Linked DNA regions of Homo sapiens. The protein of the gene in region 3 interacts with the protein of the main gene of each other region in a pairwise test. Each region holds a gene or a part of one and is shown on either strand. Other genes may lie near its edges.

Evidence for each region.
Region 1: the proteins of SMAD9 (region 3) and SVEP1 interact in a two-hybrid assay, tested with the Homo sapiens proteins (one large-scale study listed by BioGRID and IntAct).
Region 2: the proteins of SMAD9 (region 3) and ZNF592 interact in a two-hybrid assay, tested with the Homo sapiens proteins (one large-scale study listed by BioGRID and IntAct).
Region 4: the proteins of SMAD9 (region 3) and FLI1 interact in a two-hybrid assay, tested with the Homo sapiens proteins (one large-scale study listed by BioGRID and IntAct).
Region 5: the proteins of SMAD9 (region 3) and ZNF557 interact in a two-hybrid assay, tested with the Homo sapiens proteins (one large-scale study listed by BioGRID and IntAct).
Region 6: the proteins of SMAD9 (region 3) and TINAGL1 interact in a two-hybrid assay, tested with the Homo sapiens proteins (one large-scale study listed by BioGRID and IntAct).
Region 7: the proteins of SMAD9 (region 3) and EXPH5 interact in a two-hybrid assay, tested with the Homo sapiens proteins (one large-scale study listed by BioGRID and IntAct).

What each region holds. Positions count from the first base shown.
Region 1 is NC_000009.12:110,576,942-110,580,948, forward strand, and holds the start of SVEP1 (sushi, von Willebrand factor type A, EGF and pentraxin domain-containing protein 1 precursor), read right to left. Parts: upstream 2,801-4,007; 5' UTR 2,603-2,800; coding exon 2,072-2,602; intron 1-2,071.
Region 2 is NC_000015.10:84,793,592-84,797,091, reverse strand, and holds part of ZNF592 (zinc finger protein 592), read right to left. Parts: intron 1-3,500.
Region 3 is NC_000013.11:36,878,739-36,882,238, forward strand, and holds part of SMAD9 (mothers against decapentaplegic homolog 9), read right to left. Parts: intron 2,040-3,500; exon of another isoform or gene 1,551-2,039; intron 1,138-1,550; 5' UTR 952-1,137; coding exon 540-951; intron 1-539. UniProt on the Homo sapiens protein: Transcriptional modulator activated by BMP (bone morphogenetic proteins) type 1 receptor kinase. SMAD9 is a receptor-regulated SMAD (R-SMAD).
Region 4 is NC_000011.10:128,753,072-128,756,571, forward strand, and holds part of FLI1 (Friend leukemia integration 1 transcription factor), read left to right. Parts: intron 1-3,500. UniProt on the Homo sapiens protein: Sequence-specific transcriptional activator. Recognizes the DNA sequence 5'-C[CA]GGAAGT-3'.
Region 5 is NC_000019.10:7,068,299-7,072,502, reverse strand, and holds the start of ZNF557 (zinc finger protein 557), read right to left. Parts: upstream 2,801-4,204; 5' UTR 2,730-2,800; intron 1,942-2,729; 5' UTR 1,850-1,941; intron 1-1,849. UniProt on the Homo sapiens protein: May be involved in transcriptional regulation.
Region 6 is NC_000001.11:31,583,015-31,586,514, forward strand, and holds part of TINAGL1 (tubulointerstitial nephritis antigen-like isoform 1 precursor), read left to right. Parts: intron 1-134; coding exon 135-227; intron 228-446; coding exon 447-561; intron 562-1,663; coding exon 1,664-1,787; intron 1,788-1,871; coding exon 1,872-2,022; intron 2,023-2,136; coding exon 2,137-2,326; intron 2,327-2,425; coding exon 2,426-2,471; intron 2,472-2,738; coding exon 2,739-2,862; intron 2,863-3,500. UniProt on the Homo sapiens protein: May be implicated in the adrenocortical zonation and in mechanisms for repressing the CYP11B1 gene expression in adrenocortical cells. This is a non catalytic peptidase C1 family protein.
Region 7 is NC_000011.10:108,506,769-108,510,268, forward strand, and holds part of EXPH5 (exophilin-5), read right to left. Parts: coding exon 2,769-3,500; 3' UTR 1-2,768. UniProt on the Homo sapiens protein: May act as Rab effector protein and play a role in vesicle trafficking.

The DNA.
Region 1 (4,007 bases), on a different chromosome or scaffold from region 3:
ATGGATTAAACTGCTAAATAGAAAACTATTTCTCTGATTTGGGAAATGAGAAGGCTATTCTAAGACTTTGAGAAAATATAAGGTCTTACACTTTTGAAATGGAAGAATTATTACTATAAAATACATATAATCCCCAAGTTAATTCAATATTTTCTATATTGAAATCAAAATCCTTACTGACTTCATTGGTAATATGTAAAAATGAATTTAAAATTCATATTAAATAATAAGTGGGTAAGAATTAACTAGAAAAAGAATAGATTTTTTAAAAGGAGAATTTGCACTACCAGATATTTAAATATGTTGTAAAGTTACAATAGTTAAAACATTTTGGCAATGATACAAATGAGATAGAGAATGGGATGAAATAGAAAGCCAGGAAGAGATCAAATACCCATAAGCATTTAGCACATGATAAACATGACATTCAATTAAATTGGAAAAGGACAGATGGCTATTAAGCAAGTAGTGCTGGGACAACTGGTTAACTATTTATTTTTTAAAATCAAGTTAGACCTCTTTGTCATATCATACACAAAAATAAATTCCAGATGGATTAAGCTGCTACATGGAAAACTATTTCTCTGATTTGGGAAATGAGAGAGCTATTCTAAAACTATGAACAAATATAGGATCTTAAGGAAAATGTTTGATAGATTTGAGTGTATAAAAATGTAAACCATTCATCTAACAACATTTCCATAAACAAAAATAAAAGGCAGTGAACTGGAAAAACATTTGCAACATATACACAAAAGAATTACTGGCCTCACTATATAAAGAACTTTTGCAAATCATTAAGAAAAAAAAACAAGCCAATGTGTTAAGAAAAAACAAACAAGCACTATAATGGCAAAATGGGCAAAAACTATAAATATCAGAGGAAAAAATACAAATGTCCAGTAGATGTACTGGAAAATGTTCATCCTCAAAAATCAAAAATGTGTATTTGCTAAAATGATGCCTCCATCACCTCTTAAATTGACAAAGATATTAAAAAGAATAGTATGATATTGGTGAATATGTGGCAAATTTACTGCTGAGATACTCTGCTGATGAGAATATAAATTTATACAACCCTCCAAGGGAGAAATGGACAATAGTATCAAGAAGTTACAAATGTTCATAACCTTTAGTTCAGGAACTTTTATAGAAATTCTTCCTAAAGATGTAAACAGAGGAGTCCACAAATATTTATGTTCACGATAACTTAGTAAGGAAAAATCCTAAGTGTCCAACAATAAGTGATTGTTGCACGCAATGGAATAGTATGCAGCTAATGTAGAACATTTTAATTAGGATATAACAAACGAAAAATGTAGGCTACAAAACAGCAAGATATTAAAAGTATGAATGGATGTACATACTGGGCAACTGTTCAACAACCTGCAAACAGTGGCTTTTTTAAAGTGATGAAATTTTAGGGTTTTTTTTTCCTCTCCCTACTTTTTGTTTAATTCAGTCCACAAACACTGGCTTGCTATTATGTGTTAGATATTTCTATATGTTTCTTTTTCCCCCACTGAATATGGATTAATTTGTAATCAGAAAAACAGACACACTTTACAAAAGTCCGACATCCCAAACTGACTTCCTCTTCCAGATATTAAAAATCTAATAAAGGATTGGAGCAAAAATAGGAAGGGCACGAATCTTACATTGAAAGCATAACATAACTTTAAAAAGAATTGGGGTTAGGTTTATATCACTCCATGTCCTACCTTTAGAAACACTTTGTAAACCATGCTCACCTGTTTCAGCTTGGATACCGTCTGCTCCTACAAACGTGAATGTGATTAGCGTTTCAAGGATCCCTTCCTAACAGGGTCCTCGAAGCCGACTATCTAAGGAGCCTGACATCCCTCTAAGCGTTTTAAAATCCATTATCCCATTGGAACCTCCACAACAATAATAGGCGGGTAGCGATGACTCTGGTTTTGTGGATGGGGACGCTTGACTTGGGGTGGTTATGCCTTGCCCAGGACTGAACCCCGGGATAGAGACGGGCAGGCAGCGGTGGGTCGAAGGGCCCGGGGACTAGGGCCCGGGTCGGGAGGGGCGGGCGCCTTACCGCGGCTTGCTGGAAGGCGCCCTTGGTGTAGGTGCCGCCACCTCGGTAGGAGATGGCAGGGATCTCTTGGAGGAGCAGCGCGCACTTGTGCTGGCGCGCGCGGCGGGTGGAGATGTAATCGACGCGCGGCACCACGTAGTTCTTGGACGAGAAGGTCACGATGGCCACGCGCGTGGCCGTGGGCACCACGGGGAAGTCGGACAGCAGCTTGCGGACGAACATGAGCTCGCTGCGGAAGTTGACTTCGCCCACGCTGGACGAATCATCCACCAGGAAGACAAGCTCCAGGCGCTCGCTGAGCTCCCGCAGCAGCCGCACGCGTCGCCGGAACGCCTGGCCCAGCCGCTCCACTCTGCTCCCCGCCGCTTCGTCGCCAGGAGCGGGCGGCGCGGGGATACTCCCGGGGGCCCCGGGCGCGGTCTCGGGGAAGAGGCGGAAGCTGAAATTGCGCGACGGGGACATCTGCTGAAAGGTCGCCCAGCCCGAAACGAGCGCCAGACCCCAGCAACAAAAGGCCAGGCGAGGCCACATCGCGCTGGAGACAGAGCGGCTGCCCCGGAGCGCAGGCGGCGGCTCGGGCGGGAAGAGGCGCTGGGCGGCCGGACTCGCAGAGGGGCGTGCGCGGAGCTGGGCGCGGGGCAGCGGCCAAGAGCCTCAGCGCCCTTTCATCTGACACTGGGGACAGACACAATCCAGACTCCTCAGCAGCTCGGGAACTCCGGAGGGAACGGCGCGCGCTCTCTACCCCTCTCGCTCTCCTCTTTTTTTCTTCCCTCTCTCCTCCTCCTCTCTCTCCCTGAAGCCTATAAAATGTTTGAAGGAAAGGGGGCAGTCAAGAAAAATCTCCCGCTTCCCTCCTTCTCTCCCTCTCTCCCTCTCCCCGCTCCTGTCTACTTTCTGTATCTGTGACTCTATCTCCCTCCTCCCCCTCTCATTCTCCTCCCGGGATCAAGCCAAAGGCTCGGAGATTCCATGACACCAGAACCCCGCGTCTGTCAGGCTGTCAACATTCCCGCAGCAAGCGCACCAGCGCCGAAGCCCTGATTGATCCCATATGTCTGGCAGGAGCTGCAGAGGAATTCACTGGAGATGGATCCAGATACCGAGAGTGCCACAGTAATTGGAAACACTTTGTAGACGAAAACATACACGCGGACTGGCCAGGGAGTTGAAAGCATCCTTTGAAAACTGCTTGCTCACCTTTTGTGTTTCTTTTCCCCCATTCAGTGTCCCAAAGCCCTCGCCAAATAGATGATTGTACAATTTTCCTGATGGGGATTTCTAATCAGTGGTGTGTGTGAGCGTGCAGATTAAGCCCTTAAGGGCCCCCTCAGATCACACCATAAAGGAGTTGCATCTAACCTTATGCGTTCCACAGGAATGATTTGTCATGGTACTTCAGTCGTGCATTTATTCATTCATCTGTTTGTTCATTCTTTCCTGATTTTAACAAATATTTTTTGAATACCCATTGTGTGCCAGGAACTATGTGAGGCACTGCAAATATAAGGAACAAAAATTGACAGGGATTCTATCCTCAATGAACTTAAAGGGTAACAAGTGAGGTGACCATTAACCAGATATTAACATACAAAATATATGTAATTACAAGTGACCATGCTAAATAAAGGAGAGCTTAGGTAGACAGACTTGACCTTGGAGAGGCCAGAGAAGCCTTCTCTGAGGACAGAAAGTTTGTGCTGAAGTCTGAAGTGTAAGTAGGGGGTCCCCAGTCCCCTTTCATGTGTTCTTGATCTATTTCAACAGATAAGATCCACCTGGCTTTAAGTGGTACCTGGCATATATCTGCTTTGAAACAAGTTGCTACCTGGGGTGGTTTTTCCAAAGCAAGACCTCCAAAGGGGAGAGCGCACGTGTAAAGAAAAGGTGCACTTTGCATGAGGGTGGGGCCTTTGGTTAAAAGATTCCAGCTGGG
Region 2 (3,500 bases), on a different chromosome or scaffold from region 3:
CTACTCAGGTGGCTGAGGCAGAATTGCTTGAACCCGGGAGGCAGAGGTTGCAGTAAGCCGAGTTTGTGCCACCGCATTCCAGCCTGGGTGACAGAGTGAGAACCTGTCTCTTGGGGGGGAGCGGGGGAAGCTCCACTGTTCATGTGGCCACGTGGCTATTTAAATAACAAAAAAATAAAAATAAAAATTCAGTTCCTTAGTTGCACTGGCCACATTTCAAGCACCCGGTAGCCACAAATGGCTGGTACTATACTATACTCTACTGGACCATGCAGCTCAAAAGTGCTGTGATGTCTTCCTGGTGGAACTATGGGGATAACTTTTCATTTTTTTTTCTCCCTACCAATTTGTATTTTCTGAGTTTATTTGGTGGATTTTTTTTTTACAATGCATAAATAAGATAAACAATTGTCTTAAACCATTTTTCTGAAATTGAGGCCGTATGGAACTTGTTTCAACTTCACAACATCTCTCTATAAATACTGCCTTTCCTTTTATCGATATCAGAGAATAATATGACCTTCCTCCATGCCAACCTGCATCCATAAGATTACTAGTCCCTCTCCTGTGTTCAGTCTTTCCTCCTGCCCAAGAACACACATAGGTCTCCCCTACATGACAAAACATCTTTTCCCTCTCTGCTCTTCCTTTTTATCTTCCTTTTGTTGCAATACTGTCTGCCCTCATATTATTGACATCCCCATAGGCACTAAAGAGAGGCAGGTGCTTTGCTAAAATAAAAGGCGTGCCTTCATTTAAGAATTATTTGACTCCTGAATGTTACCCTTCGTTTTTTTATATATATATATATATATATATATATAAAATATATATATATATATATATATATATTTTTTTTTTTTTTTTTTTGAGACAGAGTCTTGCTTTGTCACCCAGATTGGAGTGCAGTGGTGCAATCTTGGCTCACTGCAACCTCCACCTCCTGGGTTCAAGCGATTCTCCTGTCTCAGCCTCCCAAGTAGCTGGGATTACAGGTGCCTGCAACCACACCCGGCTTACTTTTGTATTTTTAGTAGAGACGGGGTTTCACCATGTTGGCCGCGCTGGTCTTGAACGCCTGACCTCAGGTGATCCACTGACCTCGGCCTCCCAAATTGCTGGGATTACAGGCGTGATACATTTTCACGGCCCACATAAATCCCCACAGAATCCTGAACAATCTTTTTTCTTCCTTGTGTGTATTGGAAGGGAGGGGTAGAGAATCACCTTCGAAAATTTAATTAGCAATGAAGAGCAGCCCACGGAACCAGAAAGCTTTTTGTGATAAACTCCACAGAGCATTCATTACTACATTTGTATATGCTTTAAATTAGGGTTTCTATTCAAGTTACTTACTTAATTTTCCTTTCTCTCCTGCTAAACAGAAGAGTGAAACCAACTTCTAGCACACAGAAGTATTTCCACACTACAAAGTATTATGAGGAGAAAAAAGCACATAATTCCACATTCATCCAAAGTGGCCAAGTACATCTGATATGTGTAAAGAATCTCTTAAGTGGCTTTATTTGTGCCATTTGACCAAACTCCTGCAGAAATAGTAGAAATACATTCTTTTCGAATGCTACTGAAAACTCCTTCTATGTATCTGGTAGACATTTCTTTGAGAAACCTCATTGAAAGTAAGAACACATGCAAAGTATCCTCAATGAAGGACTGAATCCAATGGTGTTTACAAGTTGATGAGAAAGTATGCAGAAAAGAGTGCCAACCATATGACACCGCACTTGACCACAGTTTTTTAAGACGAGATAGACAATTATGGAATCATATGTTGTGAAATATGTAGTTTTAGAAAAGATAATAAACAACATATTTAACTTTAATAATCACAAATAAGAAAATAACATTAAAACAGTCTAAACTTGCATCCTTATGACATCATTAGCCATTCTCCAAATTATTAATAAAGAACAGAATAATTTATGAAATTCTGAAATATATGTGTATGCATATTTTACATAAAATACATATAAATTTTATATACTTATATATTATATAAATAACCATATATAGGCTTTTTACATTATCAAGTAAAAGCAAAAATAATACAAAACATAAAATAATATTGTAAAACTCTGTAGTAGAGTTCAATAAAATGGAACATAGGTATCTTGAGAATTTACTAAAAAAATTAACATCCACAGAATGGGAGAAAATATTTGCAAATCTGACAAGTAACTTGTATTCAGAAGATATAAAAAACTCTTACAACTCAATTATAAGATGTCAAATAACCCAATTCAGAAGTGGGCAAATTATCTGAACAGACATTTCTCCAAAGAAGATGGAGTCCAGGCCGGGAGCAGTGGCTCACGTCTGTAATCCCAGCACTTTGGGAGGCTGAGGTCGGTGGATCACCTGAGGTCAGGAGTTCAAGACCAGCCTGACCAAAATGGTGAAACCCCGTCTCTACTAAAAATACAAAAATTAGCCAGGAATGGTGGTGGGCGTCTGTAATCCCAGCTATTCAGGAGGCTGAGGTGGGAGAAGTGCTTGAACCCGGGGTGGCGGAGGTTGCAGTGAGCTGAGATAGCGCCACTGCACTCCAGCCTGGTCAACAGAGTAAGACTGTCTCAAAAAAAAAAAAAAGTTGGAGTCCAATAAGCACATGATCAACACCGTTAACCATCAGGGAAACAAGATACCATTTCACACCCATAAGGATGGTTACAATCAAAAAGACAATAACAAGTGTTGGCAAGGGTGTACAGAAATCAAAACCTAGATACACTGCTGGTGGGGATGTAAAAACGCTGCAGTCACTTTGGAAAATAGTCTGACAGTTTCTCAAAAAGTTAATCAGAGTTACTACTTTTTTTCCTCTTTTAAAATTATATTTTAAGTTTGGGGATACATGTGCAGAATGTGCAGGTTTGTTACATAGGTATACACGTGCCATGGTGGTTTGCTGCACCCATCAACCCGTCTTCTACATTAGGTATTTCTCCTAATGCTATCCCTCCCCTAGCCCCCCACCCGCTGACAGGCCCCAGTGTGTGATGTTCCCCTCCCTACAGAGTTACTATTTGACCCAGCTATTCTACTCCTAGGTATCCAAAGCAACTGAAAACATGTCCACATGATAACTTGTACATGAATGTTCTTCAGCAGCATTATTCATATTATTCATTATTCATGAAGCCAAAAGGGGAAACCAACCCAAAGGTCCATCAGCTGACAAATGGATAAACAAAACATGGTGTATCCCCGCAATGGAATCTCAGCCATAATAAGGAATGAAATACTGATATATGCTACAACATGGATGAACCTTGCAAATATGCTAATAATATTACATAATTCCACTTATATGACATGTCCAGAAGAGCTATGAGACAGAAAGTAAATTAGCGATTGCCTAGGGCTAGGGGGGAAGAAAGAAGTGGTGGATATGAGGTTTCTTCTTGGATAGTAAAAATGCTCTAAAATTGTTTGTAGTGATTGCACAACTCTGTTATGAACACTGTAGTGTTGTGTAT
Region 3 (3,500 bases):
CGGGGGGAGGAGGATGTTTAATTTTTACAGCTCATCATTATCAAGGCCATTTTAAAACCTTTCAGGACCCCAAGAACTGGTAAAAGATTATGTTGACTTGTCCCAGATACCTCAAAATAAAACTTTTATGGCAGTTTTCTCCGATTAGCCATCTGCCTCATTTTCAAAATCACACAAAGCTTACCAGCATAATGAAATCAAATGAAAATATCTTCTTTCTAGATTTTCCTGACTAGTTTATCTTCATTCCTTCACACTGGCTATAACAGGGTTTTACTGCGATTCTCTTTGGATTGAGTGTTCCTGTGGCATTCCAGGCAGGAATATCGTTTTCATGGGAACTTTCTTTGATTGGACAGCTGCCTCATTCCGGGAAACAAAATTTTGGACGAGTCCCTCAAAACTGAACCTCCCTCTCCTCTCTTCTCTCTCTCTCTTTTGGGAGAGGTCCCTGTCTGCTGGTGCCCCATCATTCTCCATCAATGGGGCACACGACCTTCACTCTGAAAATAAACCTTGACGTCGTAAAGACGACCCACCTGGAGTCTCCACCCGGCGGTAGTGGTAAGGGTTAATGCACACTTCTTTCTGCTTGGAGCCAAATGGGAACTCACAGCACTCCAGCGGCTTCAGCTCGTGGTGGGACTGCAGATCCGGCCAGCGCCACACGCGACAGTAAATCACATGGGGCAGGCCCTTGCGGTGGGACACCTGCAGCCGCCCGTCCAGGGAGCGGGGAATCGTGACGCATTTGCTGGGCTGCCCCGGGCAGCTGAGAGCCCTCTCCAGCTCGTCCATGGCTCCCTTCTTCTTCTTTAACTTCTTCACTAGAGAGTCCACTGCCTTCTCTGCCCACTTTTCCTCTTCATCTCCTTGCTTCCAGCCTAGCAGTCTCTTCACTGCGGGGCTGGTGAAGGAGAAGAGGGAGCTGATGGGGGTGGTGGAGTGCATAAGAGGCCACAGCAGGCTCCGGCGCGCACGGGAACCGCACAGCCCTTCACGGCAAAGTGGGCGGCGAGTAGCTCTCCAGGGGTGGCATAGGGACCAACCCGCCCGTTCTTCTGGGAGCAGCTGGGACCAATTCAAGTTGCGAAGTGTGTTGACTTTCTCCTAAGCCCTTGAACAGGGTGGCCAACTCTGGAAAACACGACAAGACTTCAATTAGCTTAATCGGAGTAACATTCAGAAAAAGTTGAAGTTGGATAGAAAGAGGCAATCTACACCTACAGTCCCAGCTACTCAAGTGGGTGAATGGCTCGAGCCCAGGAGGTCAAGGCTGCGCCACTGCACTCCAGCCTGAGCAACAGAACCAGGCCCCAAAGTTGGATAGAAGGGAAAAAACATTCTTCAAATGTTTTAATTTTAAAACTGTTGTCTTTGACTCTGCCCTCTCCTGTATTTCCTATATCCAGGTCTCAGGTCATTCTGCCCTCAAAGTCTTTGGAGTTTGTCCTTTCTCTCCATTTCTGCCAACACCTGAGGTCTGACTCACCACACCACTTCTCTGAAGTAGCATCTCTCTTTCTCTCTTTCAATTCGAATTCACTTACTCCCAAACACAGCTCTTATCATTTTCCCATTTAAGAAATGACAGTGGCTCCTTGGTCTCCCAAGTGTAAACTCCTCTGCCTGGGTTTTTCCAGGGCCTCCATAATCTGCCCTCAACATGAGTATGTTCTTTCTTTCTCATTTTTAGTTTGCACAAGCAATCCATCTTCTTGTAGAAAATAAATACTAATGAAAAGAAAAGAAAAAAAGAATCGTGAATAATCTCACCACTCCTGGACAGCCATTCTTAACATAGTCTTCCAAACTACTTTTCAGGACAGTGGCTCTCAAAGTGTGCCCCAAGGATCCCTGGGAGTCCCCTGAGATCCTTTTAAGGGGACTATGAGGTTCTCTCTTTTCCAATTACTTATTTGTGTGAACTAACTTCGCTTCACATACTTCAACCAAAACAACATAACACAATAGAGTATATGGAGAAAAGATGACAATCTAGGTGCCATTTATTAAGCCAAGTATTAAATAGATTTGCAGTAATATAAAACAATAATACTCTTCTCAATAACTTTTTTGAAAACAATGTTTTAAATAAAAATATTTTATGTTAATACAGTTTTTTTAATGATTCAATCAATATTTTTTTAATTTCTTAGTTTCAATTTTTAAAATGGTAAAAATTGATAGATACAGCCTACAGAAGCAAGAGTTCTTTGGAGTTCTCAATAATTTTTAAAAGTGGAAATTTTCAAGACCCAAATGCATGAGAACTGCTTTTCTAGAAATTATACACTATCACACACCAATACATACACAAAAAAGCACAGCTGTCACATTTGTTATTTGGCCTAAAATCAGCTTAATTCTTCTTTGCCCTGTCATCCACAGGAGATGTTCTTTCCCAGTTATTCAGCAGTCTCATTTAAATTTCCTGAGGTCGAACTGTATTTCCTCTTCTGTGAAATAGTTGGCTTAAACAAAACCTCCTCCTCCTTCCAGATTTTAGAAACCAGCTACCTCATTAATGTTTAAAGTGGCTGGCTGGTAACATTTTGGAGTAAGCTGACTCAAGTATTTTGGGATCTTGGAATCGATGTAGCTTATAATCTCCAACAATTGTTTGTTTAATATGCATTAAATATAATTTTCTCCTTTGCTTCCCTGGAGGGCAAGCTGTACCTTTCTGAGTCCAATTCTATAAACTTCTTTCGAACAAAGGTGCCTTATAACCCCCCGCTAGGGTGATCATTATCGGGCACCTCAGGTGAGGAGGATGGCAGCATGGTCCCACAATAACGGATGAGATTTAATAAGTATAAAGCAATAGTCACATCACTTTATTCCTCATCTGGGCTTTATCTGGCATTGTACAGAGATAAACTATGACAAAAGGGAGAGTTGAGAGCTCCATAGCTGCTCTTTTCGCTTGGCAGTTTGACTTACACTCAGTTTTATTTGGAAAGGTTGATTTTGTGGCTTAACAATCATGAATTTATAAAGTATAGTTAAGTCATTGTGTTCAAGTTCTGTTTACTTAATCTAGTCAGGCTGCCTTAAAGCAATGGCTGAAGAGGGTTAGAAGCTTTAAGGAGAAGTCTCATGATAGAATAACCTGAACCCCAAAAGAGTTGTGAATTCTGCTTAGTTTTACATGGAACTCATTATTAGTAAGTTGTGGTATAGATCTTTAAGCTGAGGTCAGTCATAGAGAAAAGCTTTTTATAAAAACACTCAGCGAGTTAAACCAAATACACCTTTTAGAAACTTTTGCTCCATGAAACAACAGTTCCCTAAACCAGGTTTTGTTTGGTTCGTTTTTTTAAACTGTGGGTTTCTATTTACCAATGGCATGTGAAATCAATGAATTGGAACAAAACAGCTTTTGCACAAACAACAAAACAAAACAGACTTTATTGCAGAGCAGCTGACGAAAAATAAGTATAATAATAATCATTTCATGAAAAATTTTCATTCACAGGTATGTGCTGTGTGTGTGT
Region 4 (3,500 bases), on a different chromosome or scaffold from region 3:
GCTGGGGCACTTCCCTGCCTGGAACAAGGGACCCTATGCCACCCTCTGGATCTAGGACTCAGTGGCTCTGGACCCACAGACCCAGCCTTTCCAGCATTCTGCAAAGGAAAGTGCTTCTCAGAAGCCAATGACTAAGCCAGCCCAGGGGTTCCTTTTACAGAGACAATTGTTGGGTCAAGAAGGAACCCCAGAGCTGAGCCCCACATAGGGCTAGGAGCCCACGCCTCCTGTCTTTCTCACTTGGAAGTCAATTTTACATAGCATGGTCTAAAGCCTCATGGACCCCACAAGTCTTTTAAATAATAACTAACTTCTCTTCCCTTGAATAAAATAATCAGCAACAATAGGAGAAGCAAAGTCATGAGAAACGGAAGGAATGTAGTCCCTCTGAGGATGGCTGGTGAATTTGCATGCTGGTGTTCTTCCTACACCCAGCCTATCACCTCAGTTAAGTACTTATTGATGATTTATCCGTGGAAAGTTCTTGAACGCTAGCAACATGCTCATTTCTGTAAAGAGCTTGAAGTACAAGGAAGAGTTTTAAGTTTAAACTTTAAAAAGTTTTAAGAGTTTAAGTAAAGAGCTTTATAAGACACACATGAAGTAGCAACAGCTCCTCATGTGTAACAAGCTGCAAATAAGTGAAATTTCTGCCAGCTCAGCAGCTCCTCGCCTGCAGACAGCAGCAGCCACATCAAGTTGCCCAGACTCATTCCTCTTGTTTGCCTCCTCCGTCCCTACTCTGGTCTTCCCAGAGCAATTTGGAGAGGGCTCCCTACTACCAGTGGCATCATAAAAATGACAGTGTACTTGCCAAGGGCATGGTCTTGGGGTGCTCCTAAAGCTGTTGAACTGCAAAAAGGGGTGCCGTTTATTTGCAGAAGCCACAAGAATGCTCTCCTCCCCAACTCTGCTCTTTCACTTGGGTCTCAAATCAGCTTGTCTGGGGCCTTATCTCCCCAAATCTTTTATTCCACTTAGGGGCCCTCACCTCCCTTCCCTTGCCCATATTGGCTTTTCAAATTCAGCCCAGTGAGCCAGACAGGGAACTCTTCTCCTTCATCTTCTCTCTCTTCACAGCCCCCATGATCTATCTCTTCTTTTCTCTACATTGTAATGGAAAAAAAGCTTTTTGTCTAGCCATGATTGCAAATAGAAGGGGGATGTGTGTGTGTGTGTGTGTGTGTGTGTGTGTGTGTGTGTGTGCACATATGCATACCCAAAGCAGTATTCTCACGAGCTGTTAACAGCTCAAAGGAGTCATAGGTCATCATCAGAAAGGTTTCATGGAAACAGGAAGCTCTCAGGAAGATCTCACTTACCTTACACAATGGCAAAGATAATTGTGCATCAGGGTGAAAGAGTAAAGAAAGGTTACTTGCAGCAAAAGGAACCACAAAATTAAGGCACAGAAGCATACCTGAGTAGGGCTTGTCTAGTGGAGCAGTGAGAATAGTTAGAATTGGACACAAGTTGCAGCAAGAGGAAGTTGTGCAATGTAAGTGTGGCAGGTGGGACAAAGATGACCTTTGGAAGACAAGTGGCTGAGAAGAGATTTGCTGTGGTCCATCTCTAGGGAGCTCTCTGAGGTTTTTGAGCAGATTGTGGCAGGATGACAGCAGTATTCACAACTTGCAAGGGAGCTGGATCCAGCCAGGGAGCGCACAAGGTGTACTGAATGAGGGAAGAGCATGTCAGTGGGTCGTCAGGGAGGGAAGAGTCTCAGAGAGAAATGCCCAGACTGGACAGAAGTGTGAGGCATTCCCGGTGAACCGGGACGCTCTCCTCCTACAATGTTGCCACTTGATTGGAGTTTCCTTGATTGTGAACTACATTCTTAAGGAAACTTCTATTCCAAAATGAGTTCAAACTGGTTTTGTGCCCTTTCTACACCTACACTCTATCTCATCACTTGTTTTTTTCTAGCTGTGTACCACTCACTTCCTTAAGAAGTCTCTCCTGGGTCTGCCTCCAGAACCGCTGGCTTTGTGTTCTCTGTGTATTCTCTTTGCTGTGAGTCTTGATTTTGCCGTCTGCATGTCCCCTTGGCCAGGACAATCCTGTGTTCCCTGTTGCCTGGTCCACCCTCCTTAGGATAATGATGGGAGGAACTTTTTGCCCATCTATGGAGCATCACTGTGCCCAGCCCTGCCTCCCGGGCTTCTTTGCCTCTGATATTCTGTCATCTTCTCCCCCAACCTAGAAGAGGGAAGGGAAAGAAATTATTTTACTGGAAACTCCAAGGTTCATGAATGATAAACTAAGAACGTAAGCCATTCTCTACAGCAGAAGATGCTACCTGATTCCTGAAATGTCATCTGTTTTTGTAGCAGGACTGTGGTACATGTTCTTCACTCTTATCACCAAAAGACACTTAGGGGTCATAGGTGGTAATGTGTCCTCTGCTTCCAGTGCGGAGCTCAAGGAATTTCATGGAGTCAGGGACAGCTGTCTGAAAGGTTGCAATGTCACCCTTTTCAGCTCAGAACCATAATTCCTTGAGCCCAGATAACAGTTCAAAATTTAGGATATGAAGCCAAAGCTGAACTCTAGCTGAAATCAAGAGTGGATATAATAACCAAGAAACAAATGGTTCTGACAAGCACAGCTTTACTCTGAGCATGACTCAAGGGCATCTGGTAGAAAATGAAGAAGGATCCCAGCAGATGTTAGGGCTAGGGAGATCCCCTCGGTTGGGGGATGTAAGTGTTTTAATATTGTGTGGGCAACTCTGCTTTGAATGTATGTCTGGAGGCACCTACACCATCCAAAGCCTTCTGGTGCAAAAGCAGGACTCCTAGAGTATATTCCAGTATTTTTTCCCTGATCCCAGCTGAAAACAGCCATAGAAGAGCCTCCCTTTTTGAATTATGGCTGTCTGTCCGCTGGGGTGGAGAATGGCCCTGGGAGACAAGAGACAGCCCATGGAGCAGGTTGTAATTCTACAGGCATATGAAGAGCATTCATTCTGAAGAAGACATTCAATTCAGGAATGTGAATTACACAAGGAAGGTAGACAAATCCCAGCTTTAACAAGTGCTGTTCACCTATCACTACATTTTCAAGTAAAGGTGGTGTATCCATTTGCTAGGGTTTCCATAACAACATACCAGGGCTGAGTGGCTTAAGCAAAAGAAATTTATTTGCTCAGAGTTCTGGAGACTGGAAGTCCAAGATCAGGGTGCCAGCAGGGTTGGTTTTCCTCAGAGGCCTCTCTCCTTGGCTTGCCAATGACTGCTGTGTCCTCACATGGCAGCCCCTCTGTGCACACACTCCCCTGGGGGCTCTCTGTGTGTCCAAATTCCCTCTTCTTATAAGAACACCAGTCATATTGGATTAGAACCCACCCTATCAGCCTCATTTCACCTTACCTCCTTAAAGGTCCTATCTCCAAATACAATCACATTCTGAGTACTGCGGGTAAGGGCTTCAGCATATGAATTTTGTGAGGACACAAGGCAGCCCCTAACAGGTGGCCTAAGAGAATCTTTGTTTGAATG
Region 5 (4,204 bases), on a different chromosome or scaffold from region 3:
ATGAGAGGCAGTGGAGAGCCAGCAAAGGCTTTTCAGGCAGGCGAGTGACTAAAGCAAATTTATCTTTATGTATTTATTTTGAGACAGTCTTGCTCTGTCACCCAGGCTGGAGTACAATGGTGAGATCTCGGCTCACTGCAACCTCCGCCTCCTGGGTTCAAGCAATTCTGTCTGCCTCAGCCTCCCGAGTAGCTGGGATCATAGGTGCCCACCACCATGCCCAGCTAATTTTTGTATTTTTAGTAGAGACAGTGTTTTGCCATGTTGGCCAGGCTGGTCTCGAACTCCTGACCTCAGGCGATCTGCCCACCTCAGCCTCCCAAAGTGGTGGGATTACAGGTGTGAGCCACTGTGCCTGGCTGTATTTTTTTTTTTTTTTTTTTTTTTGAGACGGAGTCTCGCTCTGTCACCCAGGCTGGAGTGCACTGGCATGATCTCGGCTCACTGCAAGCTCCACCTCCCGGGTTTATGCCATTCCCTTGCCTCAGCCTCCCGAGTAGCTGGGACTACAGGCGCCTGCCACCACGCCCGGGTAATCTTTTTTTTTTTTTTTGTATTTTTAGTACAGACGGGGTTTCACCACGTTAGCCAGGATGGTCTCGATCTCCTGACCTCGTGATCTGCCTGCCTTGGCCTCCCGAAGTGCTGGGATTACAGGCGTGAGCCACCATGCCCAGCTTTTTTTTTTTTTTTTTTTTTTTTTGAGATGCAGTCTTGCTCTGTTGCCCAGGCTGAAGTGCAGCGGTGCCATCTTGGCTCACTGCAGTCTCCGCCTCCCAGGCTCAAGAGAGTCACCACACCCAGCTAATTTATATATTTTTAGTACAGACGGGGTTTCACCCTGTTGGCCAGGCTGGTCTTGAACTCCTGACCTCAGGTGATCCACCTACCTCGGCCTCCCAAAGTTCTGGGATTACAGACAGGCTTGAGCCACTGCTCCTGGCCACAAATTATCTTTTACAATAGCCGTTCTGGCTTCATTGCAATGGACAGATGGGAAGAGACTAGAACAATGCCGCCCAGCAGGGCTTTCTGGGATGATGGAAATGATCTTAATCTTTGCTGTTCAATAGGGGCATTAACCACATGTCGCTGTCAAGCACTTGAAATGTGGTTAGTGCGACTGAGAAGCTGAATTTAAAATTTTATGGAATCTTAATTGGTCTACATTTAAATTAAAACAACCGCATGGACCAGCAGCTACCTTATTATACAGCATAAGTCTACAGGCTGGCAGGCCTGTTAGGAAAAGAAAAAAATAAAAGAAAAATTGAGATGTCTTGGAAGGTTGAAAAAAAAACTTTTAAATAGTGTTTACATGTTTTGTGTACTGATTTGCATATAGCTGTATTTACTGACTTATTTTGACACACATTATCACACACCCCTTAGTATCCTTCTCTTGAATATAAGGCATCAAACAAATAATTTTTAAGATACCCTCACTCGTGGCTCACACCTGTAATCCCAGCACTTTAGGAGGCCGAGGTGGGTGGATCACCTGAAGTCAGGAGTTCGAGACCAGCCTGGCCAACATGGCAACACCCCATCTTTACTAAAAATACAAAAATTAGCTGGGCGTGGTGGTGCACCCTTGTCATTCCAGCTACTTGGGAGGCTGAGGCAGGAGAACTGCTTGAACCTGGGAGGCAGATGTTGCAATGAGCTGAGATCGCACCACTGCACTCCAGGCTGGGCAACGGAGTGAGACTCTGTCTCAAAAAAAAAAAAAAAAATACCCTCACTGTTAGTGAGTCCTTGTGTTTACAACCTGAACACAGGAAAAATCCATTCACAGGTTTTCTACACAGTGGAGTCTTGCAACTTGCAGGTTCTACACGGTACCTACCTGATCATACAGAAGTCCACGGATCAGTGAGGATAGGTGAAACTTGAGGCTGGTTTCAACACAAATCTGAGCTTGAATTATACTTTTTTCGTCTAAATAAAAAGGGCACAAAAATCGCTTATGAGGCCTTTTGTAGGGAGTAATATGTACGTATAGTAAAATGTATTTACTGAGACTAATACAGTTGTTGCATAGAAAGACCACCCCATTCACTTAAAAAAAATTGATTTAAAGAATAAGAACCCAGGCTACTGGCTGTGCCTGAATTCACCAGATTCCTATCCAGCCATCTGGTCCCTAAAATGGGACAAGAAGCTTAAAGCTGTTTTCATCTGACTTGCTTAACTCATTTGGCTGGAGATTGTATGGTGACTCCAGATGCTTTAAATTCGTCACTTTAGGCCTTATAAGTGGACTCGGCTGAATTCTAAATAATTTCTACAGTGTATTCAGGACTGCAGAGATTTTAATGCCCTCCAGCAGGGTTTCCCAACCTGGGCACTAATGACATTTGGGGCTGGATGAGTCTTTGCTGGCGGCGGCTGCTTTACGCGCTGCAGGATGCTGAGCTGCTAGCATCCCTGGCCTCCACCCTCTAGATTACAGTAGTAGCACAGTCCCTCCTACCCTCCATTTTGTGACATCCCAAACCGTCTCCAACTATAGCCAAAAGTCCCCTGGGGCGCAGAATCGCCCCGGGTGAGGGCGACAGGGTGAGGACGACAGAGTGAGGATGACAGGGGCGCGGGGCCCGGACACCGGAGGAAACAGCAGCTTCGGGCTTAACTGAGCGCACAGCCCGAGGCCTCAGGGGCGGAAACCCGGCTCCCGGGAGGGACGCAGGCCCGCGGCTGGGGCCCCTCTCTGGACTCGGACTCACGGAATGAAGCACCTCTCGCGGAGACCGAAAGATTCTCCCAGACGCTGCAAGCGCGGCTCTTCTCACAAGACACAAGCGCGCTTCCGCTTCCGGTCTCCGGCTAGCCACACTGCACCTCCGCTTCCGGCTCCAGCTGGTCCCAGCCCAAAATGCGGCGTGTCAGGACCCCCGGGTTCAGGCTGCAGGTGCAGCAGCCGCGCACCCCAGCCTCCGGCTGAGGTGTTCTAGTTTGCTTAGTTATTAATAGAACCAGGTTGGGCCCTGGCTAGGGACAGCCGCGGAGGCAGGGTCGTCCTGGCGCGGGTCTGTGGCAGGGTTGGGGGCGGAACTAGCTCTTGAGCGGGGCTGTGGGCGGTACCAGGCCTGGAGGCGGGCCTGAGTGTTGACGGGGACCAGTTCCGGGGGCGGGGACCAACTCTGGAGCGGGGCTGTGGGCGGTACCAGGCCTGGAGGCAGGGCTGAGTGTGGGTGGAGATCAGCTCCGGGGGTGGGGAGAAGTTCTGGGGCGGGACCGTGGGCGGTACCAGGCATGGGGGCGGGGCTGTCAGGACAGAGACTAAGTTCCGGGGCGAGGTTGTGGGCGGGCATTAGGTTTGATGGGCGGATCTTGCTGTGGGTTAATACCAGGTTTGGTGGGCGAGTATGTGGACAAGATAAGGCAGTGGTGGGGCATGGAATGGGGTTGAGCTAGTAGGCTGAGAGGACAAGACTTGGTGGAGGTCAGTTTTTGGGTGTAGGGCTTTTTGTGGATTTTAAAACTGTTCAGGTAGCAGGATGCAAAATGAACTCTTTAAAGTTTTCTTCAGTCATTTCTCCACATTCACCGCCTGTTAAAATGATATAGCCACACATTTAGGGCGTGTGTGTGTGTGTGTGTGTGTGTGGCTTTTCGTTTGTTTGTTTTGAGACAGGGTCTCACTCTGTGGCCCAGGCTGGAGTGCAGTGGTGCAATCATAGCTCACTGCAGCCTCGACCTCCTGAGCTCAAGCCATCCTTCCACCCGGGCCTCCCACACTACCAAGCCTGACTATTTTTGTATTTGTTTGTAGAGAGGAGGTCTGTGTTGCCCAGGATGGTCTAGAACTCATGGCCTCAAGTCATACCCCACTTCGGCCTCCCAAAGTGCTGAGATTACAGGTGTGAGCCACACCACACCCAGCCTTTTTGTGTGATTTTGAGCTTCCTAATTTCTTTCAAAAATGGGATCATGTATGCATATTTCTCCCATCCAGAGGGGGACGAGGGGAGGGAGGACTAGGGAGGGATGTCTCCAAGTGAAAGCCAAAGCTGATTAATTGTCTAGTGCACATCTGGATCTACTGAAAAGAGAACTACATTTCTGGTGGAGAAAATAGGTGTTGGATTCATAGGAAGAAATAAAAAAGGAAATTTTAAAATTTAAGAGATCAAAAGAAAAAATGAGAAAAAATTATTAATGACATACTACTTGTTACATGTCTGGCTAAGGTTTAGAT
Region 6 (3,500 bases), on a different chromosome or scaffold from region 3:
GGATGGGATCACCTAGAGATTCTCCCACAGTCACTTGCACAGACTCCCTGGCCCATGTTAACCTCCGAGGCCACATTCCTTCAAAGTATCCCCAGTCCCCCACTTACCCTTTCCTTCTCTCCTTTTCTCACCAGCACCTGCCAGGAGAACAGGCAGTGGCAGTGTGACCAAGAACCATGCCTGGTGGATCCAGACATGATCAAAGCCATCAACCAGGGCAACTATGGGTGAGAGGCCCTAGAGGCACCCTCAGTGGGCACACATGCATACTCATGCATGTATACACGCATGCTGTGCTGTGGGGCACGTCCAGCAGGCCACTCCTACACCCAGATTTGACTGTGTGTGCGCTCAGCCACTGTGCGTCTCTCCCACCCACATGCACCCACGCCAAGGACCCTGAGCCTCGGCAGATCTGTGACTTCCTTCCGTCCCCTCTCCTTCAGCTGGCAGGCTGGGAACCACAGCGCCTTCTGGGGCATGACCCTGGATGAGGGCATTCGCTACCGCCTGGGCACCATCCGCCCATCTTCCTCGGTCATGAACATGCATGAAATTTATGTAAGTCCATCCTTCCCCACAATGCTGCCATCTCCCCATGGCTCAGAACCTCAGGGATGCTGGCCCTGTGCCCTGCTCCTCCAAGGGCCTGGACCATCCCCTACTACAAGGCTGTGTGTCCCTGGACAAGTTACTCCCCTTCTCTGGGCCTCTGTTCCCTGCTTCCACAGGATGTGCTGTGCTGGAAGAACTGATGCTCAGATTGAATTTCGTGGTCTTGGCATCAGCTCCCCCCTGATCTCTCCAGCCTGGGAAAAATGCTGTTGGTCTCAGTACAGCTGGGTTAGGGCCCAAGGGGACAGGGGGTCACCTTGGTATTTTGGGAAGGGAAGGACACACACTCCTCCAGTTCTGGCCAGAGGGCAGCAGTTCTCGGAAATAAATGCCGGTTCAGCGGAACCCCAAGGGAGGAGAGGGCTTCTCCCTTCCCACCAGTGGGACCCTCTGGGAGAGGAATGAAAACCAGGCCCAAAGTGAAAGGGTGAGGAAGGGGAGCTTCAGCAGGCCTGGACCGGGACATGTGCCGGAGCATTTGTCCATCAGTGGCAGGCAGCGGGGAGGCAGGGGCTGGCAGGAGTGGCCCTCCCTGCGGAGACTTCGGCCTTGGGTGACCAGACCCTGGCCCTGCCCTTATTCCCCTGGGCCTCTGGCTATTTTCTGCCTCTTGCTGTTTGTGTTGGCAGACTGCCTGGTCACGGGACCCTACTGCCTCTTCCCTCCCCTGAGGGAAAGCTAAGGCCTGAAGAAAGCTAAGGCCGATCAGAAGGTGCAGAGGAAAGAGGCAGGGGTTGAGAATGGAAAGCTGAGGGACCTGGCCTGGCCACTTCTCTGTGCCTGGCCTCAGCTGCCTCATCTGGGAAGCAGGACTAGTCACCACCGCCACCCCGCCCCGCCCCACCACCTGATACCTGGGAGGCACTAAATGGTGCTTGGTTCTTCAACACAAGTCAAAATTGGAGGCAGCTGGAATCCTGCAGCAGCAGGAGGGCTCAAGATTAAACTGCAGAAGGCCCTGGACTTGGTGGCCCTCCAGTGCCAATGGGCACCTGAGGGGCAGGCCAGGGCAGAGCAGGAGGCAGACAGGGCAACCTTTATCTTGCAGACAGTGCTGAACCCAGGGGAGGTGCTTCCCACAGCCTTCGAGGCCTCTGAGAAGTGGCCCAACCTGATTCATGAGCCTCTTGACCAAGGCAACTGTGCAGGCTCCTGGGCCTTCTCCACAGCAGGTAAGCCAAGGGCAAGGGCTGGCGCCTGGGAGAGGAGGGCCAAGTCCTGAGCCTCCCGACAGCCCCTCTATCTCACCCCACCAGCTGTGGCATCCGATCGTGTCTCAATCCATTCTCTGGGACACATGACGCCTGTCCTGTCGCCCCAGAACCTGCTGTCTTGTGACACCCACCAGCAGCAGGGCTGCCGCGGTGGGCGTCTCGATGGTGCCTGGTGGTTCCTGCGTCGCCGAGGGTATGCAGCAACAGGGGATGTGGGCAGAGAAGAGGGCAAGGAGCTCCGTGGGCATGGCCTGGGCCATGATGCACTGAGTCTTTCTGCCTTTGCTCCCTCTTGCTGCCTTTGCAGGGTGGTGTCTGACCACTGCTACCCCTTCTCGGGCCGTGAACGAGACGAGGCTGGCCCTGCGCCCCCCTGTATGATGCACAGCCGAGCCATGGGTCGGGGCAAGCGCCAGGCCACTGCCCACTGCCCCAACAGCTATGTTAATAACAATGACATCTACCAGGTCACTCCTGTCTACCGCCTCGGCTCCAACGTAAGTCAGCACTTGGGTGAGGGCGCCGAGGCAGGAGGGTTGTGAAAGCCTGGAGTCTCACCCCTGACGTATGCTCTCTGTCCATCCCCTGCCCTCCAGGACAAGGAGATCATGAAGGAGCTGATGGAGAATGGCCCTGTCCAAGGTAAACCCCCTTATCCAGCACCCTGGTTCCAGAAGCTTGTGCCTGCTTGAGAGTGGGCACAGTAGCACAAGTGGCCTGCACAGCATTCAGCAGCATGTCCAGTAGGGCCAGGAGTAGGGGTCCCCCCCTCCCACAGGCAGCACCTGGAGGGAGCACTTAGAGCTTTGGTATGGAGGGACCCTGGTGCCTGGGCACATCTCAATAGACTCAGGCTCCAGTGCCTGTGCCAACGGGCTGAGTGGACCCTACCTTGACATCTGCCCACAGCCCTCATGGAGGTGCATGAGGACTTCTTCCTATACAAGGGAGGCATCTACAGCCACACGCCAGTGAGCCTTGGGAGGCCAGAGAGATACCGCCGGCATGGGACCCACTCAGTCAAGATCACAGGGTGAGGGGCGTGTGGGCAGAGGGGGTTTGGGACAGCAGGGTTTGTGCTAGGGGCTCTGGAGCCTGCCTTGGGTTCTTACAACCTCTCTAAAAAGCCAGGACTGCTCTCATCATTTCAATAGGGAGAAAACTGAGACTCAGAAAGAGAAAGGACTTGCCCTGGGTCGAATTGAAGGTTGGGAGCCTCTGAAGGCTTTTTTAGGAACTGTTCCTTCCTTACATTGGGATAAAATAACTCCAATATGAAGAGAGCCTCAAGAGTTTCTCAACCTCTCCCCACCTCAGCACCTGTCCCAGCTCTGCCTGACCCACCGAGTGACCTGGGAGGTCGCTCCCCTGGCCTCAGTTTCCCTATCCGATTTAGGGAATATAGATGTTAGGATCACTGACTTCAATGAACTCGGTGAAATGTGCTTTACGGTGGGAATTGGCGGTCTCTAAGATACCCATATTCTCAGAGTGTCTTCCTTCTGGCCCTTGGCACCTACCCCTCCCTGGATCCCCAAGTGAGGGAGGGCAGGTGGATGTGTGGTCCCATAGAACTGGCCCCTAGGAGGTGGGTCTCTGGAGGACCCAGGTTCCCTCCTCTTCTGCTCACCTTGCCTCCACTTGTCCCCTTGGTGCCCCACCCCCTCCCAT
Region 7 (3,500 bases), on a different chromosome or scaffold from region 3:
TCACCTGAGGTCAGGAGTTCGAAACCAGCCTGGCCAACATGGCGAAACCCCGTCTCTGCTAAAAATACAAAAATTAGCTGGGCGTGGTGGTGGGCACCTGTAATCCCAGCTACTCGGGAAGCTGAGGCAGGAGAATCGCTTGAACCTGGGAGGCGGAGGTTGCAGTGAGCCGAGATTGCGCCATTGCACTCCAGCCTGGGCAACAGAGTGAGACTCTGTCTCAAAGAAAATAATAATAATAATAATAATAATCAGATAAATAGAAAAAGAGGAAAGGCAGAATTTACAAACATATATTAACCAAGAAATAGTGTTATTTATTCTTTACCATACAAATTTGCATTGAAAAGTTCACAATATTTGATTTTTGAGCTTTCTGAGCTCAGGATTGGTCAGAGCTTGAAGTTTAAAATAGTTGACAGATTTAGGGAATAGCTTTCATGTTAGTTACCGCATGTTCATTAGCTTTGAGTTGCATGGGAACCATGTAAAGTAACCCACGCATTTTGCGTCTATGTAAGGGAATGATTAGAAGGATAACAACAACATAGTTCTTTCTTAACTCTCTATCAGTTCCAGATCTCTATACACTTCACCAACATCTATCATTATTCTTAGTTTATAATGATGAAACAGACTAGGTATAAAAAATGGAAAATTAGATTAGGTCGCGAAGCAAATATAAACCAAGCAAGATAAAATCCACTCATGTTGACTATCATAGTATTGAGATCCAGGAATCCATGCTGTCTGTAGTTAAAGCAGATTATCTTCACTGCCATCTATTGGTCTTTATCCTGAATTAGGAGAGAAATCCCCCGAGGTTCTGCATGGCAAATAAAGAGTTAGGAAAGCCAAAATATCAGTGGGTATCATAAGTGATTTACTCTAGATAAATCACTGAATCATAGTGACAAGCCCTTAGGAGCTCTGCCTTAGAATTTCCCAAGGGTTTCGTAGATGATCCTGCAGCAAAGAATGAATTCCAGGGTGTCAGATCTGACTTGATGGCATTTTAGGGACTTGGCCAAGGTTCCCACTTGATATTTGGGACTAAAATGCCCCACCTGAAAAGAAGCGTTCTACCTTGCAATTAAAGAAAATGTGGGCCAGGCACGGTGGCTCATGCCTGTAATCCCAGCAGTTTGGGAGGCCGAGGTGGGCAGATCACCTGAGGTCAGAAGTTTGAGACCAGCCTGGCCAACCTGGTGAAACTCCAACTCTACTAAAAATACCAAAAAAAAAAAAAAAAAAAAAAAAATTAGCCAGGTGTGGTGGTGGGTGCCTGTAGTCCCAGCTACTTGGGAGGCTGAGGCAGGAGAATTGCCTGAACTTGGGAGGAGGAGGTTGCAGTAAGCTGAGATCATGCCATTGCACTCTAGCCTGAGCAACAAGAACAAGACTCCACCTCAAAACAAAAACAAAAACAAAACAAAACAAAAAAAGACTGGGCATGGTAGCTCATGCCTGTAATCCTAGCACTCTGGGAGGCTGAAGTGGGCGGATTGCCTGAGCTCAGGAGTTCGAGACCAGCCTGGGCAACACGGTGAAACCCCGTCTCTACTAAAATACAAAAATATTAGCTGGGCGTGGCAGCGTGCGCCTGGGTGCGCCTGTGATCCCAGCTACTCTGGAGGCTGAGGCAGGAGAATCGCTTGAACCCGGGAGGCGGAGGTTGCAGTGAGCCCAGATCATGCCACTGCACTCCAGCCTGGGTGACAGAGCAAAACTCCGTCTCCAAAAAACAAAAACAAAACAAAACCAAACAAAAAACAAAAACAAAAAAAAGAAAATGTGAAAATGGATAGTTCTGAGGAAATGGGAAAAGCCAGTTGCTGAGAGAACTGCAGTAAAGGTAAGTCGGTCCCATGAAGGGATACCTACTTCCTACCTCTGCTCCTCAGCTATGTTCTCTTCATAAGCAGAAATTCTGTGACCAGGCAACTTTCTGTATGGTCAGGTTGCCTGGCCTAAGTCCTTGGCTTGACTAAAAGCCCTTAATAATCCAGCCAGTCCCCCACGGTTTCAGAGGAATTTCTAGGACTGCTAACCTTCTATTGGCTTACTAGGGATTCAGGTCCTAATCTATAACCTCAACATGTGCTTTGACCATGTGCCTCCCAGGCTCCACTACGGATATAACAGGAAGTACTTACAAAATTCCTTTATCTTTTTTTTTTCCTTTTTGCAATCAGTTTCTCAGGTTAAAAAATAAATTCCTTTATCTTTGTTTGAAAGAGAAGATCACCACCTTAAACTTCCTAAATGTTCATGAGTCAAACAGGATGATAATATTTACCCCACTGTTATCATCCCTACCTTTTATTTAATGTCATGAGTATAGGGTGTGGACCGGAAGAAGCAATACAGAGTTTCACAGTTGTGCTGGGTAATTCATAAGTTTTGTATGTGCCTGGGATATTAGGGTTGTAAATCACAATTAAAGATGAAAAATGTTAGGAGGGAAGTAAAGCAGAAAGCCCAAATCAGACAGTGAATCAGGGATTAAGTGGGAGTGGTGGAAAGGCAGGCTAAGAACATTTACAGAGATAGAAAATAGCAGAGACTCTCTCAAAACAAGAATTCATTGTTCTAGCATTCAGGAAGTGTCTATATAGGGTGTGGAGGAAAAAAAAGGAGATGTGGGACATTTCAGAGCAGACACTGCCCAGACTAGATCTTTTATCCTTCCATGCACATGCACATGTACACCTTAGTTCCATTATAAGCTTTTGGTGAAAAAAGTAAAGCATTTTATTGAAAAAGCCTCACAGTTCTGACTCTTTGTCATTTTCATCCAGGTAGTATTCATCATCTGTGGTTGTGTCTGTGTCACAATCTGAGTCCACTGGGTCATCCTCATAGATATTAAGCGGTTCACTTGGAGATAAGCCATCTTCTGGCACCTGACTACTGGGAGAATTTGAGCTTAATGACTCTGAGGGGTTGGGAGGGTTCCTCAAATCATCTTTTAGGAAGCCAGGGTTCTTAAGAAAACTTGGTTTCCATAATCTTCCTTGTGTAAGTGACCTCTTTACATTTTCTAAGAAAGCTAACTGTTGTTCTTTCCCAAAGATCCCATAGTCGATAGGTCTGTATATAGATATTGCAGACCTGGGACCTGTTTTTGTCCCGCTGCGATAAGCCCAACTTTCATTTCCATCACAGGAGGGGAGTTCAGAAAAAGATCTGAATCTTCGACTGTACCCATTGTTGACAGAGAATTCATTCCCAAGGGTCAGTCGACTCAGGGCATTGTCAATAGAAGTGCTTTCAGAAAAATGGCGCTCCCTGACTTTTGGAGGATGGCTTTTTCGTAGTAGATCGCCATGAACATTAATGCTTTTTAAACTCTTTGAACGATAGAGGTGTGGCTCAGGTTCCCACTCCAGAGATGAAGCACTCCTTTGTTGCTGCAGAAAACTGGCCAGTGGACTGCTTACTCTAGATTTCTGTGCAGGCTCCAGTGGAAAAGGAGGGCTCAGCCTCCTCTGATTGTC